2 separate regions of the Homo sapiens genome follow, and region 1 is linked to region 2. A link means that fine-mapping ties the variant in region 2 to the expression of a gene that starts in the linked region. Tissue or cell type: whole blood. Region 2 holds a variant in brackets; the other region holds the start of a gene. All regions are shown on one strand. Distances are between the middles of the regions. Region 1 holds the start of DGAT1 (diacylglycerol O-acyltransferase 1). Region 2 overlaps HSF1 (heat shock transcription factor 1).

The links. PIP is the estimated chance that this variant, and not a neighbour inherited with it, causes the effect.
Region 1: DGAT1 starts here. The variant in region 2 is fine-mapped to the expression of DGAT1 in whole blood (TOPMed, PIP above 0.99).

What each region holds. Positions count from the first base shown.
Region 1 is chr8:144,322,152-144,331,488 of GRCh38, reverse strand. It overlaps DGAT1 (diacylglycerol O-acyltransferase 1), which reads left to right and starts at 4,637. Exons shown (of 17, transcript NM_012079.6): 1 at 4,637-5,052. The coding sequence starts at 4,853. SCRT1 (scratch family transcriptional repressor 1) reads left to right here. Exons shown (of 2, transcript NM_031309.6): 2 at 1-924. RefSeq lists silencers at 4,211-4,930, 4,941-5,010 and an enhancer at 7,502-7,561.
Region 2 is chr8:144,301,799-144,311,135 of GRCh38, reverse strand. HSF1 (heat shock transcription factor 1) reads right to left here. Exons shown (of 13, transcript NM_005526.4): 2 at 2,122-2,230; 3 at 1,545-1,681; 4 at 1,240-1,364. Among named protein-coding and RNA genes, the nearest start is that of MIR6848, 11 kb to the left of the region's middle. The variant T/C (reference allele first, on the strand shown) is at 5,246.

The sequences.
Region 1 (9,337 bases), 20 kb before region 2:
GAAGAACGGCAGATGCAGAGAGACCAGGTCCCTAGGTTCACATGCCCCCTACACTCCTCCCCACCTCAACCAGTCCCTGCTGGGCACAACTGGGCTCTACCTTTGAGTTAGGCCTTTTGACTCCAGCTGAGGGGGACAGATCCAGGGCTCCTGGGCCCCCACACAGGTGGCCACTTCTCTGATCCTCTGGCCAACACACATCTGCCATGTCCAGCCAGGGGCAGAGCCATGGCTGGAGAAGAAGGTGCCAGCTGTAGCCTATGGTGTGGCCAGCCTCACCCCCAGCAGCAAGCGTGGCTGCCCCCACAAGGATGACCCACCGCTCTGCACAGCAGTGCCCACATCCAAACACCCTACACAACCAGGTGTGGTGCCTGCACAGCTCCCAAGCTGGGGCCTGCCCACCTGTGCCGCATGCACACGCACACACAGGCGCCCCCACCTCACCCCACCCCATACTCCTGTCTACCTACCTAAGGAGAAAGCTGGAGGGCTGTGGGCCCGTCAGGGTCTCCTGCTTCCCCCTACACCCCGCCGCCGTGGAAAGCCATGGGCCCCCTCCCGCCCCCATAACTAAGCAGCACAATAACCGACTTAGCGAATTCAGGTAGAAGGAACGTTTAGGTAGCACCTATTTTGTACTGATTCTACAAGTAGGGCCCGAGGTGCGGGGGCCCTCGGGTGGGGGCTGCGGCCGCCGGCCCGCCCGCCCCCACCCCCGCCTGTGCCCCGCCGCCTTGTACATATTCCCACCCGGAATAGGCCGGGATTTTTACTCGGGCCGTGCCCCTCTTCCGCCCCCATTTGGGGCCAGGCCGGCCGGACAGACGGACGGACGGACAGACCTCCTTCCTAAGCACAATAGCACCAGCTCCCCGGAGCACCGCACCTCCACAAGGAGAATAAATGCCACTCTTGATAGAATTTGGAGTGTCGGGCTGATGTGTCCTGGGCTGGGCCCACGCTGTTGGGTGGCTGGGAGGGTCTTCCCAGTCTGGCAGTACCTCAGAGGCTGGTGCTGCAAGGGTCAGCCTGAGGCCTTTCACAAGACGGCCCTCTTCTTCCACTGGGGAGGGCAGGCTTGGCAGGCCCAACCACAGGAGCATCAGGTCTGAAGGCAAAGTAGTTGGCATTTCCCCTGGGGTAGGTGGATCTGCTCCACACCAGGAACAGGAGCACTAAGGGGTTCCAGTCTAAAGTCAGGCCAAGCCCACGGTTGGACCAGAGTGGGCAGGGTAGGTATAGTAGGAGCTGCTGTTCCCCAGCCTGGGTGCCTTCGCTCTTCTCTCCCTGAAGGAGCTTTATGCTGTGATGGAAGGCCTGATAGCCACCTCAAGCCCTCTGAGATGCTGTTGCAGGAAATGGGGACAGTGGAGAGTTCGAGGTCTGGCCCTTTTCCTGTGGCCTGCTGCCCACATTCTGACCCCCAGGCTTCCCAGATATGCTCCCCCAGTGTCTGCGGATGCCTCCATGGATAGCTGGGTTGGACCGGTTCCAGGGAGGAGGTGCCCAGGGGGCAGAGAGGCTTCTGCAACCATCGCCCAAGGGCTCTAGACAGAATGAGTAGTGGAGGAGATAAGGGACAGGGACCCTTTGCCCAGCAATGTCCCCTGGTAACCAGGTAGGCAGGCATGAGCCGAGAGGCCCAAAGTCTTCGGGCACATACATTCAAACCAGGTCAGTCCTAGATCCAGGGCCAGCAAAGCTGCCCACACCCTAGCAGGGACAGGGGACAGACCTGCCCAGACTCCACTAGGGTGGAGAGCAGGGGAACCAGGTCTGCAGCATGTCATGGCCTGTGTGCCTGGCACTTGGAGGAGCTGTGGTGCAGGTGGGTGCTCTCTTTGGGAGAGCACTACCAGCAATGACAATGGCAGACAGCAATGGCCAGGAGGAAGGCTCCTAGCCTCACTCCTTCCAAAGGACTCCAACAGCGACTGGCTGTTTCTACTTCTCCAGGATTCTGATGCGTAGAGTGGGTGGAAGGATGGAGGTGGCCTCCCTGAGGCCTGGGATGAGCTCGACCCCCCAGTTCCTCCCAGCCACAGACACAAGTTTCCCTCTGAATGAGCAGCACAGGCCATAGACCACCACTGGCTGTGAACTCTCCTGGGACCCTTGCTTCTCACAGGCCTTCTTGGCCCACCCATGGCCCCTAGGCCCTGGGATCAGCCTGAGGCCCCAACCCACTTCCAGCCCTTTATTCCACTAGCCCTGGAAGGCAACTCGCTTCGGGCTTGGGCCCCCTCATTTGTTGCTGCCCCCAGCAGGGTGATCTGCATCATGCTTTCCTCGATGACCCAGCCATACACACCCTTGTCCCCAACCAACCTCACCTACCCTGACCATTCCCCTCACCCTAGATCCCAGGGTATAGGGCCTGTCTGGGCAGGGCTTCACCCACCTCTGGAGCTGCTGCCCCGCCACGCCCCCACCCCCGGTGGCAAAGCCCTTCCTTAATGGCCCGCCCACAGCCAGTGCTTTCCCCATTGGCTCCAAGCCTGGCTCTGCTCACCAGGCCCGACCCATCCTCCCTGGTGGTCCAGTCCACCCTCCCATTGTCTTTCTCCTGTGGCCACTTGCCGGCTTTGAGTTGGGACGCGACCACAGGTTGAGTCGTTGATCTCCTCTGCCTAGCATGAGGTGCTCCGTGGCCAGGTCCAGACCTCTCTGAGCTTGCTGTCAGTCCATACTCAGACAGGTCTGGGCCTACCTGGCCACAGAGTGTGTCTGCCAGCGACTGCATTCAACAAATGAATATTCTGAGAGACTGGGTAGGAGATGGGGCTGGTCCTGACCGACCAAGGCCCATGTGTGAGGGGCTCTTGGGTCCAGTGAGGGCGGCCCCACTCGGCAGGCTACACAAAGGGCATCTGCCAGGTAGCTCCAGCCTGCCTGATACCTGGTTGGCAGCAACCCACAGCGGCCTGTGGTGACAAGAATATGTCACCAGGGGGGCAACCAAGGGGGCAGCCCTGCTGGCCACTGTTGGTGGAGGTGGTGGAAGAGGACGGAGCTCAGAGGCGAGGCTGTGACCAGCCCACGGGAGAGGACCCCACCTCAGGAGGAGCACCTGTTTGCTTCCAGAGAAGTGCTGCTTGCCCCTGCTCACCCCAGAGGAATGAAGGTGTTTCTAGAGTCAGAGTCCTCAGTGAACCCTGGCATCCTGAGATCCAGGATGTTCTCACTCCATGCCCTGTGCAATATGCACACCAAGCCAAGGTGGGCCGCAACTGTGGCTGTTACAGTTGATTAGTTGCTTCATTTAACATACAAGATGTCTGGGGCAGTGGCTCATACCTGTAATCCCAGCACCTTCAGAGGCCGAGGTGGGAGGATTGCGTGAGGCCAGGAGTTCGAGACCAGCCTGGGCAGAATAGCGAGACCCCCATCTTTAGAAAAAATAACAACAGGCCAGGCGCGGTGGCTTGCGCCTATAATCCCAGCACTTTGGGAGGCCGAGGTGGGCGGATCACGAGGTCAGGAGATCGAGACCAGCCTGGCCAATATGGTGAAAGCCCGTCTCTACTAAAAACAGAAAAATTAGCTGGGCGTGGTGGCACGCGCCTGTAGTCCTGGCTACTCGGGAGGCTGAGGCAGGAGAATCGCTTGAACCCAGGAGGTGGAGGTTGCAGTGAGACGAGATCGCGCTACTGCACTCCAGCCTGGCGACAGAGTGAGACTGTCTCAAAAAAAGAAAAAAGAAAACAAAAAACAACAGGGCGGTTGCACAGGCCGTGCAAATGCACAGAAGCCTCTTGAGTCCCGGCGATCCAGCGGCCCAGACTTCTGACATCCTGGAGAGGCTGGCCCACGTTGGAAACTGGGAGGCCCTGAGAGTTGAGGGACGTGGAGCTCCTTGTGGAGAGAGTGGGTGGGCTGAGAAGACACCACCAAGGGGCCTGCGCCCTCGCCCTCGCCCTCGCCCTCCTCTCGCCGGGCTCTGCAGGCGGGGAGGTGGAGAGCCTGGGAGTCGCGTGCAAGGCAGGCGTCCCGGTGACGCAGGGCCTGGTGCATTTCTCCAGCTTGGTCTTCTGACCTGGCCCTTGTCTGACGTCCCCCTAAGGCGAAGAAAAGCAGGTTCCTGCCGGGGTAACCAGAGGGCTCGCGGAGCAGAAGCGCGCCAGGGACGTTACTGTAAGCTGCGTGCGCAGAAACCAACGCGCTGGGTGGCGGGCGACGCGAGCCGCCGCGGACACCGGCCCGGACAGCTGGACCGTGGCGCACTAGGCGCTTCCTAAATGATTGCCCGGAGTGACTCGCCGAGACCCCGTGTGTACACAAGTGGGACGAGGGGCGGGCGCACAGCGGCCAGGAAGTCGGGGCCCAGCGCACCCCTCAGCGGACCATCCCGCTCCGTGGGGCCGGACAGGACCCCGGGACCACGCGGGAGCGATGCAAGGTCCGTTCCCGCTGCGCGCACTTGCGGCCCGCAGCCCCGGCCCTGGGAGCTGCCACGGCTCCCAGGGTGCTCTGCGCCGGTGCGGCCGCGGCGACTACGACTCCCAGGGTGCTCTGCGCCGGCGCGCCCGCGGCGACTACGACTCCCAGGGTGCCCTGCGCCCCGTCAGCCTCTCCAGGCCCCGCCTCAGGTCGGCCGCGGACTACAAATGGACGAGAGAGGCGGCCGTCCATTAGTTAGCGGCTCCGGAGCAACGCAGCCGTTGTCCTTGAGGCCGACGGGCCCGACGCGGGCGGGTTGAACGCGCTGGTGAGGCGGTCACCCGGGCTACGGCGGCCGGCAGGGGGCAGTGGCGGCCGTTGTCTAGGGCCCGGAGGTGGGGCCGCGCGCCTCGGGCGCTACGAACCCGGCGGGCCCACGCTTGGCTGCGGCCGGGTGCGGGCTGAGGCCATGGGCGACCGCGGCAGCTCCCGGCGCCGGAGGACAGGGTCGCGGCCCTCGAGCCACGGCGGCGGCGGGCCTGCGGCGGCGGAAGAGGAGGTGCGGGACGCCGCTGCGGGCCCCGACGTGGGAGCCGCGGGGGACGCGCCAGCCCCGGCCCCCAACAAGGACGGAGACGCCGGCGTGGGCAGCGGCCACTGGGAGCTGAGGTAGCGGAGCGCCTGACCCCCTAACCTCTGACCCAAGGGCCCCGCGACTTTCCGGGGTTGGCCGAAGCGCGAGCTCCGAGTCCGAGAACATGGGCCCTGGGCTAAGCGGGGATCGGTGTGCCCTATGGGCCCTGTGGGGAAACTGAGGCTTGGGGAGAGTCACCTGACAAGGTCACTGGGTAGGGGCTCTGGAGCTGGCCTTGGCCAGGCAGAGGGGAGCCGGCAGGTGTCCCGCATCCAGATCCTCTTGGGTCTGTGCATCCTCAGGGGCTCCTGAGGAGCTTTTCGAGGGGCGGGCTGGTGGGGGCCCGGCCCTGGACAGTGTCCCCTTATATGGAAGGAGTCAGATAAGATCTGGGCAGTTTGTGGTGATAGGTTCCTTCTTGGTGCTATGAGCGGTGCCTTGCGGGTAGGAAAGGCTCCCAGAGGAGGGCTGGCCTGCCAGGGAGGGGGCCAGAGGAGCCCAGGCCTGTCCGAGGACAGGGGAATCAGCAGCTGCCCCGGACAAGGGGCAGTGTTAGAGGCGTTCTTGTCCTTGCAGACCCTTCTGAGAGTGGCTGCGTGGCCCATTCATTGCTCCAGTGGTTAGGCTGGCCTGGAGCCCTGCCGATGTTGCCAGAGCCAGCGTCTGTTGTAGGGACAGAGAGTTGGGTTCTGTGTTGGGACTTCCATCCTCCAGGTGGGGAGTGGGGTATGGGGGTGGTGGACACACCTGCAGGCGTGTGCCCTGCTCAGCTGGATGACTGACAGAGAGGGGTGGAGGGAGAGAACCATGGCCGATGGGAAGGACTTGGCCAGCCTGGGCATTGGCTTCCTCCACCAAGCTGGCCTTGAGCAATCCCCTTGCCACCCTCCATCCCCCCTTTATGGCCTTTACCCTGGCCCAGGGGCCCTCAGGGCTTTGTTTTAGAGAGCAGCTGAGGGCCTAGAGGTTATCAAGGCAGAAGTGGGCTGATTTTGGACATGTAGTTGGCAATGATTTGCTCTCTCAGTGAGCAAGAACAGAGCTTTCCTTCACGGGGCACCATGGGGAGGGGGTTGGGGGAGGGCAGGCACTGTCGTGGCCCTCAGGGTGCTCAGTTCATCTGGGAGATAAGATAACCTCAGCGAGAGTCAGGCATGGAGCAACATGGACAAAGGTCGGGCACGGAGGCCTTGAAGGGGCCGTGGGGAGGAGGGTGGCCCTCCTGAGAGGGGTGCTTGCCTGCTGTGGGCCTGGGGTGCTGGTGAGGGAGGCTGGCCTAGGCACCTCCTACCTGAAAAGGAGGTGTGGCTCCTGGAGTTACCCTCTCTCCAGGAGGCAGGGGGATGGCTACATGACCTGTGGAGGACGTGGGAATTGAGATTTCTTTTTTTTTCTTTTCTTTTTTTTTGAGACTAGTTTTGCTCTTGTTGCCCAGGCTGGAGTAAAATGGCACATTCTTGGCTCACTGCAACCTCTGCCTCCCAGGTTCAAGTGATTCTCCTGCCTCAGCCTCCAGAGTAGCTGGGATTAGAGGCGCCCACCACACCCGGCTAATTTTGTATTTTTAGTAGAGATGGGGTTTCTCCATGTTGGTCAGGCTGGTCTCGAACTCCTGAACTCAGGTGATCCACCTGCCTTGGCCTCCCAAAGTGCTGGGATTACAGGTGTGAGCCACCGCGCCCGGCCGGGAATTGAGATTTTTTTTAGTGTGAGATGAGGGTAGTCCCAGCTTTGGGCCAAGCCGCCACCTGGGGGTAGGCAGGGGAGAGCAGTCACCTTCTTGCTTTGCAAACCAGCAAGGCTTTCCTGTACTTCTGCTGGTGTGGGATGGGTGCAGAGCTCGTGGGAGAGGCCTGGTGAGTCCCTGTCCCTGCCGTGGAGGTCGGGTCTCCTTGGGAAGAGGGGCAGTAGATGGAGAGGTGAGGCCTTCATGGGGCTGGAGGCTGAGACCAAAAGTCTATCTGCTCCTGGGTCTCCAGGACTTGCAGGCTATGTGTGCTTGTCCCTCAGACCTAGGGATGCAGCAGGGCTCGGCCACTGGCTGTGGACACTGGGCTCTTCTCCCTGCTGTCTGCGTCAGGCCTTGCTCTGCCTGCCCTCCTGGGACTTGGCCTCTAGCGCACCCCCTTGTCAGCCTCACAGCCTCCCCTCCCTCCAGCTTCCTGCTGCTCTTGGCCCAGCCCAGCCTTTCCTCTCCCGCTTCCTCATTACTCCTTGAGCTCGGGCCTCCTCCCCTCACGGACACTTCCTGCTCACCTAGGGCTGGGCTCTGGGTGTGAGCTCCTTTCTTCCGGCCCCGTGGCAAGGTGAGGCTGTGAGGCAGGCAGGAGAGGGCACCCCTTTCTGCTCTGCTTGTGGCTCACTCCTGCCAGGCTCTTTGCACACACCCACCAGCCCTCTGCTCACAGGCACCCCAGTCGGGGCCATCCGGTTTCTGGCTTCTCCCAGGGTGTTTTGTCCCTGAGGTGTCCTTTCTGACTCTCCCTTTCTCTCTCCAGCAGGGTCTGCGAGGTGCAGGGAGCCTGCCCCAACCATCTTGAACCCAGGCCCAGCCCAGAGGCCAGAGTGGAGGAGGCGGCAGTGAGCAGAGCTGGACTCTGCCCCCTCCTCATTGTGCTTGGCCCTGGAGCTGCACTGTGTGGGCCCCAAGTGTGGGACTCACTGGGACCTGTGCCTTTGGGCACACTTTGAACCTGGAGACAGGGTGGCGGGTGGGCATGTGCCAAGGTCTCAGTGTTGCCGTGAGACTGAGAGGATCCTGCTGGCTGGGTGGGCCTGGGGGCTGCAGGAGGGAGGGCAGGCTGCTCCGAGTCTTCTTGGACTAGGGAGTGGGTGTAGGGACAGCTGGAAGGTGCAGAGGCTTGGGCAGATCCTCCAGTCAGTGAGAGGGTGATAAAGGTGCTCTAGGCACAGGGGCAGATCCCACCTCCCCATGCCGTTCCATGCAGCCTGCCCTGTAGCCCACATGCTGCTGGCCGCACTGACTGCTTGGAGCTCTGTGGGCACTGGTGGACTGGGGCTTCCTCCTCATGGGGGCCTGTGAGGGGTAGGGGTAGCGCAGTGGGGGTGCTGCCTCTGGGTGGGGCTGGTCAGGCCTGTGAAGGGCCTGAGGTGAGGCTGTGGCTGGGTTGAGGAAGGCCTTGGAAGCCTGTCAAGGGGCCCCTGAGAAAGCTTGTGTAGGATTGTCTGCAGTGAGCTTTGGGAAGCACCACCCTTTCCCGACTCCTGTTTTCATCTTGGAGATGGGCATGGATAAAGCCAGCATGGTGTCCTTGGTGGCTCAAAGGGGGCAGGGGTCATACTGCTGTGAAACAGCTGTGGTTGGTAGGTCGTGGTACAAGAAGGCCAACCCTGAGGCTTGGGATTGTTCTGCTGAAAACAAATGGGCTCGAACTTGGGGAAGAGGGGGCAGTGGAGAGGCCCCCAGACAGACAGCCCAGAGAGGCTGCTGGGCAGTTGGGCCTCGTGCCCCTGCTCCCGTCACGGTGCTGGGGCTCTGGCGGTGTCTACACCCAGCCTCCTGGTTGTGGGCAGGCAGTGAGTGGAGTAGGCTGGGGAGATGAGCCAAGGGCGGTGGTCAGTTGGGAAGACAGCTGCCAACTTGGGGAGGAGGGAGGCTCTGGTGGAGACCACAGCCTCACTGCATGGCCCAGGATGGACCTGGTGGGTGGATGCAGGGCGCTCAGGCTGGAGCTGGGAGAGGCAGGGGCTGGGTGGAGCTGCCTGCCCCTGTGTTCCAGTCTAGATGGGCAGAGGGAAAGGTGTGAGCATCCTCCCTGCCTGGGGGTCTTGGGGACTAGTGTAGACTTGTCCAGGAACTGTGTAGGTGTAGATGGGGCATGTGTTGCACCAACCTTGGTCTTGGGGAGCAAAGGTTGGGCTTGTTGGCATTGCCTCTCGGCCTCCCTGGCCCTTTGCCTCCTGGGCAGGGCCGTCTGACTGCCGACCCCAATCCTAGCCAGCTTGCCTTGGGTGCCCTGAGGGCGTCTGCCTCATGGGGCTCCTGCCATGGCTCTCAGGCCCACTCTCCCTGCCTAGGGGCTCTGAGGGGCAGATGTGCGTGTGCGGGAGGGAAAGGGAGGCTCTGGCCTCTCCTCTTACAAAGTTGAGGACTTGCTCAATGCTGTGTGTGGTGTCCCAGTGGCACGGCAGATGGGGGGTGAGGCGGGCCTGCAGCTAGTGTATATGAGCCAGCACTGCTTCCTAGGACGTGTGGGGGCCTGGCCAAGCTCTTGCTGTCCTTGTCCTAGCTATATGGCAGTCCCTCTATTGGGCTGGGTGCCCTCTTCCACCTGTGCAGTATGCTGAGGACCAGGCAGG
Region 2 (9,337 bases):
ATGAGCCCCAGGGCTGAGGGAGCCCCACAGACCCTCCCTGTCCCCCATGCAGGAGCAGGGGTAAGTGTGACCATGTCTGGCCTGGCCCACCCCAGGATGAGAACTTGTGTGTGGAGGGACTGGGGGCCAGGGCCAGGGCTTGCTGGTCCCACTGCCCCTCCCTGCCGGGGACACCTGGTGTCACGTAGGGTGTTGGGGATGGATCCATGCGAGCCAGGTGCACCCGGATCCTGGCATCCATCCTGGCAAACACCTGGAGGGCTGCCTTGGACACAGGCCAGGAGCAGACCCTTGGGCCGCCCTTCCAAGGCCTGAGCAGCCAGGTTAAGGGAGGACGGTTCTTCAGGCTGCGACACTGGCTGTCCCATGTCCTGTAGGTGCTCAGGGCCCTCGCCAGGCCTGGAGGTGGCTCAGGGGTGGGGAAGAGCTGTCCCCAGCCAGGTGAGCAGGGCCATGACCGCGCTCCTGCTGCTCTGGGAGGCTGGGCCCTGTCAAGCCTGTGAGTCTTCTTGGTAGGCCAGGTCCACGTGGCCGGACTCCAGGAATCACAAAGCCGGTGGCTCCTGCTAGACCCCATGCAGGAGAGTCTGAGGCCAAGGCCTCCTCCATGACGTGGGGGTCAAGAGCGCCTGCTGCACGGAGCCGAGGAAGCCGTACTGGCATTGGGGTTCCCGCATGCCTGGAGCCCCAAAGTGGACGTGAGACCTGAGCTGGCCTTCCGAGGTGGGCTTGCCTCAGTTTCTCAGGTGCCACCGTGTGTTAGGCTCCTGCTAAGGTTTCCCCAGAGCCGCAGGGTCCCGGTGAGGAGGGGCTGGGGGCTAGCTCCATGGGCCCAGGCGAGTGTGGGACAGCGGTTCCAGGAAGGGCCTGAGGTGGGTCTGACCCCAGGCCCGAGGCGGGTGGGACGGGTCTGCTGTGCAAGGCTTGTCCTCAAAAGTAGGCTGGTGGGTCCCGCCAAGCTCGGAGCCAGGCAGAAGCCAATGGCCCAGAGGGCGCTGGGGATGTGCAGAGCAGGGGACCCTCCCAACCCCCTTCTGCACATGGAAAACGGCTGGCCCCAGAGCTGTTGCAGCAGCCACGGGCGGCGGGGCTGGGGCAGAGGCCCAGGGTAGATGTGCGTGGAGCGGGAGGGTGGAGCTGAGCACCTGGCCCCGGTCAGGGCCCTGCCCCCACAGCACCCGGGGCCTCTTGGTGGGCGCCAGGACCCGCTGTGGCCCATAATGCTGGTGTGGGACCTACTGCTTCATGGCCAGGAGCTTGGAGTCCATGCACTCCTGCTTCCCCTTCATCAGCTGCACGTCCGTCAGCAGCTTGGTGACGCTGTCCTGGCGGATCTTTATGTCTTCACTCTTCAGGGTGGACACCTGGATTCCCGAGAGGGACAGGAGTCACTGGAGCAGCCTAGGAGCTTGGCAGGCTCAGGCTCGTCCACTGCAGCCAGGTCCCTCAGGAAGGGGCAGGCTGGGGTGGGAGCCCTCAGGGAGGGGCGGGCGGGGAGAGCTGTGGCAGGTGAGACCGGGCAAGGGTGCAGGGCCGGCACTCACACTGGTCACTTTCCTCTTGATGTTCTCAAGGAGCTGCTCCTGGCCACGCAGGAAGCATGGGTGCTGGAACTCCGTGTCGTCTCTCTCTGGCTTGACCAGGCCGCCCTGCTCGATGTGGACCACTTTCCGGAAGCCATCTGCACATAACAGGGAAGGGGGCAGCTCTGCCTCAGGGCGGGACCAGAACCCCTGAAGAGCGGCCACTGCTCCAGGAGGCTGCTGCGGGGCTTGGCCATGGTCAGACCCTGCCCTGCCCCCTCAGAGCCCATGCCTGGGTGGCCGAGTGGCCTTGGTCTAAGGGAGACCCTGTGTCCCCACAGGGCTCCCTGCGCCCGACACACGTGGAGTACAGCTCCGGCTTCACGGTTCTTCCATGGGGACCCCAGGTTCATACCCACAAGGACCCTCCCCCATGGAAGAGGCGGCTGCTCCCCGGCCCCCAGGCTTGCAGGGTCCCACGCCATGCCCTTGGCCAGCACAGGACGCCCCGTCCTTCATCACAGGGTCCTCCTGCTGGGGTCCCGCCATCTGCAGGTCTGCCTCCCGCACCCCTGCGCTGCCTGGAGGCAGCACTCACACATGTTGAGCTGCCGCACGAAGCTGGCCATGTTGTTGTGCTTGAAGTACTTGGGCAGCACCTCCTTGGCAAACTGGCCCTGGTCGAACACGTGGAAGCTGTTCCCGCTCTGAAAGGGAGACACATGGGTGGGTCACGCGTGGTGGTGAGGGGCAGCGTGCCCAAGCCGCCCCTTCCCCAGGCCGCCCCTTCTGAAACGCAGGCAGTGCACGTTCCACCTGATGGGGCTGGGGCCATGGGAGGCCCAGGGGGCTGGCGGGAGGCGAGTTCGTTCCTGGGACCACCTGCCACACGGGCCTCATCTGTGCAGCGTGACCTGCATCCTCACTGTGAGGCCCAGGACTGGGCGGTGGGCAGATGCGAGGCCTTCCTCTCAGTCGGAAAGCCCCTCCCCAGGGCTTCCAGAGAAGGCCACGTTTCCACTCACAAAGCATCCGCCGCACTCTGGCCACATTTCCACTCACAAAGCACCCGCCGCACTCTGGCCACGTTTCCACTCACAAAGCACCTGTTTAAGCAGGACCTTTCCCTTGGGAACAGCGAAGGAAATGGAGCCCTAATTTCATTACTCCCGAGGAAAACACAGTCGCGTTCAGAAATCCAAATTCAGTCTTGTTTTGTGACGTGAGACAAGAAACAGAGACAGTCAAACACTGCATATACCTTCCTCTTCCATTTCTCTACCGAGCTCAGGCCCAGAGCTATCAGGAGGCGCTGGTGAGGGAGGCATCCCTGTTGGCCGTGGCCGCGGTGGCTCAGAGGGGACATCGAAGGCTTAGGGGACAGCGAGAAGCCCACACGGCGGGGAAGGGGGGCCTGAAGCAGGGCCAGAGAGGGGTGAGGGGTGTCTGCATAGGAAGGGGCGGCTGACTCAGTGAAGAAACTGGTGAAGGGCAGTGGGGCAGGTTTCTCCCTGCCAGGGAAGGGAGCTGCAGATGCAAACAGGGAAAAAGCCAGAAAGACCCCCGTGGTGTGGCACTAGAAGTGGAGAACCTCTTTCCAGCATAGAGAGATGTGAAATACACAGGGATGTACACGTGTCAGGGAGGGAAACGGTCACGGAAAGGACCCCAAGGCAGCAGGAGAGAGACGGCGAAAAGCGCCAAGCCAACTTTCCAGAACTCTGAAAGTTAACCAAAGAATTACAGTAGCACGGGGAGCATTTATTCAAGAAAAACAGCTGAATCTTAGTAAGAACAGTGGGCTTTGTGAACTTTTTTTTTTTCTGAGACAAGGTCTTGCTCAGGCTGGAGTGCACCAGCACCAACATGGCTCACTGCAGCCTCTGCATCCCAGTTCAAGCGATTCTCGTGCCTCAGCCTCCCAGTTCAAGCGATTCTCGTGCCTCAGCCTCCCGAGTTCAAGTGATTCTCCTGCCTCAGCCTCCCGAGTAGCTGACTATAGGCGCCACCACGCCCGGCTCATTTCTGTATTTTTAGGAGAGATGGGGTTTCACCATGTTGCCCAGACTGGTCTCGAATTCCTGACCTCAATCAATCCGCCCACCTTGGCCTCCTGCAGTGCTGGGATTACAGGCGTGAGCCTCTGTGCCCAGCCAGGCTTTGTGGCATTTTACATGCCCTATTCCCACTCCATCTGCAGCCTTAAAAACCAACAGCTGCAGTCCCCGTGGGAACAGCGTCCTGGCAGCCGCTGCGGGGTGGGCCAGGGCTTGAGCTCCTCCAGGGCCCCATTCCCAGAGGACTGTCAGCATCTGACCTAAGAGTCCACTCCCAAGGCTGTCTCTGATTTGACTTGAAGCTCTCCTGAATAAAAAAGCTGTTTGCCGAGGTGTGCCTGTTGAAACCTTTACAGGTGATTTTTGAACGCTGTGGCTGCCTGAGGCAGTGCCTGGCAGCTGGGGAGAAGGAGGTGCCACTAGGGGCTCTGAAAAGCTCTGAGATATTCCAGGACATCTCGCAGCCGTGTACACGTGTGAGCCGTGCCCGTGCTCAGGAAAGACCTGAGCCAGCCCCGAGCTCTCACTTCTGGCTGACCTTGAGGCTCTGTGTAAGCAGGAAGTCAGGCATACAGTTGGGTTGTCCACTGCCTGGCCGAGTGCTGAAGGCGTCCCCAACACACACACACACACACACAGCCCCCGGAAAAGACGGGAGACTCACTGGCCCCAGGCATTCAAGAACATTTCTGCCCCATCACCACCTATCTCAGTTAACTGAACAGAGACGGCAGTGGCCATAAACAAGAAAGAACGCAACCTTTACAGAATTAGTGCCGAAAAGCTACCTGACAGATAACCACGACAAACAGCAGCAATGACAAATCCTGGGGAGGTGGGGGAGTCCGAGCTCCAGAGCTGCCACTCTCAACCGATGAGAGTTCCAGTTTTCCAGCCGGCTGCGCTGGTTCACGCCTGCGGTCCCAGCACTTTGGGAAGCCGAGGCGGGTGGGTTGCTCAAGCTCAGGAGTTGGAGACTGGCCTGGGCAACATGGCAAAACCCCGTCTCTAGAAGAAATACAAAAATTAAGTGGGCGTGGTGGCGCACACCTATCATCCCAGCTACTCAGGAGGCTGAGGAGGGAGGATCCCTTGAGCTCCGGAGGTGAAGGCTGCAGTGAGCTGTGATTGAACTACTGCGCTCCAGCCTGGGTAACAGACTCAAAAACAAACAAACAAACAAACAAACAAAAAACTCTAGTTAAAAAAAAAAATAGAGATATGCAAAGAAACAAGAAGCTAGGACCCATACCCCATACACGGGAAAAAAAAAAAAAGGCAATCAATAGAAACTGTCCCCAAAGAAGCCAAAACATTGGACACTGGACTTACGAGGCAAAGATTTTAAGTCAATCATTTCAAATATGTTCAAACAACTAAAGGAAACCACATCTGAAGAACTAAAGTATGAGAATGACATCTTATCAGAGAGTATCAATAAAGAGATAAAAATTGTAAAGAAGCCCGAAATCAAAATTATGGAGCTGAAGAGTTTAATAACTCAGATTAAAAGTCAACCAGAGGGGCCGGGCGCGGTGGCTCACGCCTGTAATCCCAGCAGTTTGGGAGGCCAAGGCAGGCGGATCACCTGAGGTCAGGAGTTGGAGACCAACCTGACCAACATGGAGAAACCCCGTCTCTACTAAAAATACAAAATTAGCCAGG[T/C]GTGGTGGCTCATGCCTGTAATCCCGGCTACTCAGGAGGCTGAGGCAGGAGAATTGTTTGAACCCGGGAGGCAGAGGTTGCAGTGAGCCGAGATCGCGCCATTGCACTCCAGCCTGGGCTACAGAGTGAGACTCCGTCTCAAAAAAAAAAAAAAAAAAAAAAAAAAATTAACCAGAGGGGCTTAAGAGCAGACCTGACTAGGAGAAGAAGGAGTCAGCAAACATGAAGATCAGTCAATTGAGGTGCTCCAGTAGGAGAAAAAAAGACAGAAGGAATAAGAAGGAGGAGCCGGCCAGGCGCAGTGGCTCACGCCTGTAATCTCAGCACTTTGGGAGGCCAAGGTGGTTGGATCACGAGGTCAAGAGATCTAGACCATCCTGGCCAACATGGTCAAACCCCATCTCTACTAAAAATACAAAAAAAATTAGTTGGGCATGGTGGCATGTGCCTGTAATCCCAGCTACTTGGGAGGCTGAGGCAAGAGAATCGCTTGAACTCTGGAGGCAGAGGTTGCAGTGAGCCGAGATTGCACCACTGCACTCCAGTCTAGTGACAGAAAGAGACTCTGTCTCAAAAAAATAAAAACAAAAACAAAAATGAGCAGAGCCTCAGAGACCTGTGAGACACCACAAAAAGTGTAACACAGCCGGGCATGGTGGCTCACACCTGTAATCCCAGCATGTTGGGAGGCTGAGCCAGGCGGATCACCTGAGGTTAGGAATTCGAGACCAGCCTGGCCAACATGGGGAAACCCCGTCTCTACTAAAAATATAAAAATTAGCCGGCACAGTGGCGGGCGCCTATAGTCCCAGCTACTCGGGAGGCTGAGGCAGGAGAATCGCTTGAACCCAGGAGGCAGAGGTTGCAGTGAGCCGAGATCACCCCACTGCACTCCAGCCTGGGGGACAGAGTGAGACTCTGTCTCAATAAAAAAAAAAAAAAAGGATTAAAATGCCTGGTGTGGTGGCTCATGCCTGTAATCCCAACACTTTGGGAGGCTGAGGTGTGTGGATCGTTTGAGGTCAGGAGTTCCAGCCTGGCCAGCATGGTGAAACCCCGCCTCTACTAAAAATGGAAAAATTTTAGTGTCGTGGCTCATGCCTGTAATCCCAGCTACTTGGGAGGCTGAGGCAGAAGAACTGCTTGAACCCGGGAGGTAGAAGTTGTAGTGAGCACAGATCGTGCCACTGCCCTCTAGCCTGGGTGACAGAGCGAGACTCCATCTCCAAAAAAACAGAAACAAAAACAAACCAAAACAAATAAAATAAAAGCATTAAAATAAAAGACCCTGCCACTCAATCTTTGTATATTGGCCGGGTGTAGTTACTCATGCCTGTAATCCCAGCACTTTGGGAGGCCAAGGCAGGAGGATCCCTTGAGCCCAGGAGTTGGAGACCAGCCTGGGCAACATAGCGAGACCCCATCTCTACAAAACATAAAAATTCAATATCCGGCAAAGCTATGCTTTGAAAATGGAGAGATTTCCACTTCTGGAACAGCAATGTGAGGAACTTCATGGAAGTACTTCCTGTGAAACAAGCAAAGCTTAAACCACTTAAAGTCTCAAAACTGTCCTAAACGCATATAACAGATGAACACTTACGGAGTAAAATCTACTGACACCTGGTACGAACATTAAGCCTGGTGGCATCTGAGCCTCAGCCTCCTCTTTCCCTCTCACCCCAGCTCACCATGATGGGTACTACACTCAGGGAGAGGGGAGCAGGAAGATGGGGACCCTTCTCCCCTCAATTCCCAAATAAGGTTTCCTGGATCTCATGGGCTGGGCAGACCACCAGAGTTTCACATCCTCACCGACTCCAAGTTGAAGAGACTAAGATCCTGGTGCACGTGGCCAAGAAGCCAGGGGCTCCCTTCCTCCACCTTGCCCAAGCCTCAGAGAGGAGACTACCCCCGCCACAGCAGGCTGAGGACACCCAGGTCTCTGATCACCCTCCCCACAGCTCCCACCTAATTAAAGCATTTTCAAAACCACAATTTTTTTTTTTATTTTTTATATGGAGTCTCGCTGTCGCCCAGGCTGGAGTGCAGTGGTGCCATCTTGGCTCACTGCAACCTCCGCCTCCTGGGTTCAAGCAATTCTCCTGCCTCAGCTTCCTGGGTAGCTGGTATTACAGGCATGTGCCACCACGCCCGGCTTATTTTTATATTTTTAGTAGAGACAGGCTTTCACCAGGTTGGTCAGGCTGGTCTTGAACTCCTGACCATAAGTGATCCACCCACCTTGGCTTCCCAAGGTGCTGGGATTACAGGCATGAGCCACTGTGCCTGGCCTTAAAAACCACAAGTTTTAAATACAGTTCAGGCTTTCTAGGTTAAAACAGTAGGGTAGAGCACCCATGCTGGGAAAGCCAGGCCAAGAAGATCAGAGGCTGCTGTCTTACCCAGTGCCCAGAAGGGTGGTGCAGAGAAATCAGCCTGGGGAGAGAGGCCGTCCATAAGGAAAGAGCTCTGAAGCTCCCTGAGGAAACTCATTTTATTTGAAAGTTCAGCCCAAGACTGCTCTTGGGAACAACAGCTCCTCTAAGTTAAGAGAAACAAGTGAAACCGCAGGCTTGTTCACCTGCACAGGAAAAGCTACGAAGAGCCCTGCTGGGGCCAGAACAACCCTGACTGACCTCAGACACTACCACTACTCAAAAACCCCAAACACGCCTGCAACAATAATCCAAATAGCGAGACCCCCATCTATACCAAAAAAATGATAGAAGAGACGAAATCATAAAGGACCCCCAGTGGAAACTCTGGAGTAGAATAACCAAAGCAGAACTGCTGGCCGTGTGGTAAATGCTGAATTTCACATGCAACTCCCAAGCTGCTTTCCAAAGCGGATGCAGCATTTGTGTTCTCAGCAGCACGGGTGAGTTCCAGGGGCTCCGCACCCTCCTCAGCACCTGGCTGTTCTAGTCGCTGTCGCTGCGGTTTTCGTGTGCATTCCTCTGACAACGAACGATGCTGAGCACCTGTTCAAGTGCTTATTTGCTATTTGTCTATCTTTTTTTTGATGTATCTGTTCAAATCTTCTGCCTTTTTCAATGTATGTTTTTTCGAGACAGAGTCTGCTTTGTCACCCAGGCTGGAGTGCAGTGGCGCGATCTGGGCTCACTGCAACCTCTACCTCCTGGGATCAAGAGATCCTCCCACCTCAGCCTCCCGCGTAGCTGGGCCCACAGGAGCACACCACCACATCAGGCTCATTTTTTTTTGTAGAGATGGGTCTCCCTATGTTGCCCAGGCTGGTCTCGAACTCCTGAGTGGAAGCAATCTACCCGCGCTGGCCTCCCAAAGTGTTGGGATTACAGGTGTCAGCTACCATGCTCAGCCACTTGCGTTTTATTTATTATTATTATTATCTTTTTTTTTTAGATGGAGTCTCGCTCCACTGCCCAGGCTAGAGTGCAATGGCGCGATCTCAGCTCACTGCAACCTCTGCCTCCCGGGTTCATGCGATTCTCCCACCTCAGCCTCCTGAGTAGCTGGGACTACAGGCACCTGCCATCACGCCCAGCTAATTTTTGTATTTTCAGTAGAGACGGGGTTTCACCATATTGGCCAGGCTGCTTTTGAATTCCTGACCTTGTGATCCGCCTGCCTCGGTCTCCCAAAGTGCTGGGATTACAGGCGTGAGCCACGGCGCCCGGCCTGCCTTTAATTTTTTTTAAATGGTTGTCTTCCTGAGTTGCAAAAAAAAATTTTTTTTTTTGGAGACGGAGTCTCGCTGTGTCGCCCAGGCTGGAGTGCAATGGTGCAGTTTCGGCTCACTGCAGCCTCTGCCTCCTGGGTTCCAGAGATTCTCCCGCCTCAGCCTCCCGAGTAGCGGGGATTACAGGCACCTGCCACCACGCCCAGCTAGTTTTTGTATTTTTAGTAGAGACAAGGTTTCACCATGTTGGCCAAGCTATGTTGCCCCATCTGGGAGCAATCCTTCCACCCGAGCCTCTGAGTAGCTGGCACCACAGGCACCACCACCGTGCACGGCTCTTCTGGATGCTTTTTATTTTTTTTGAGACGGAGTCTCGCTTTGTCGCCCAGGCTGGAGTGCAGTGGTGCGATCTCGGCTCACTGCAAGCT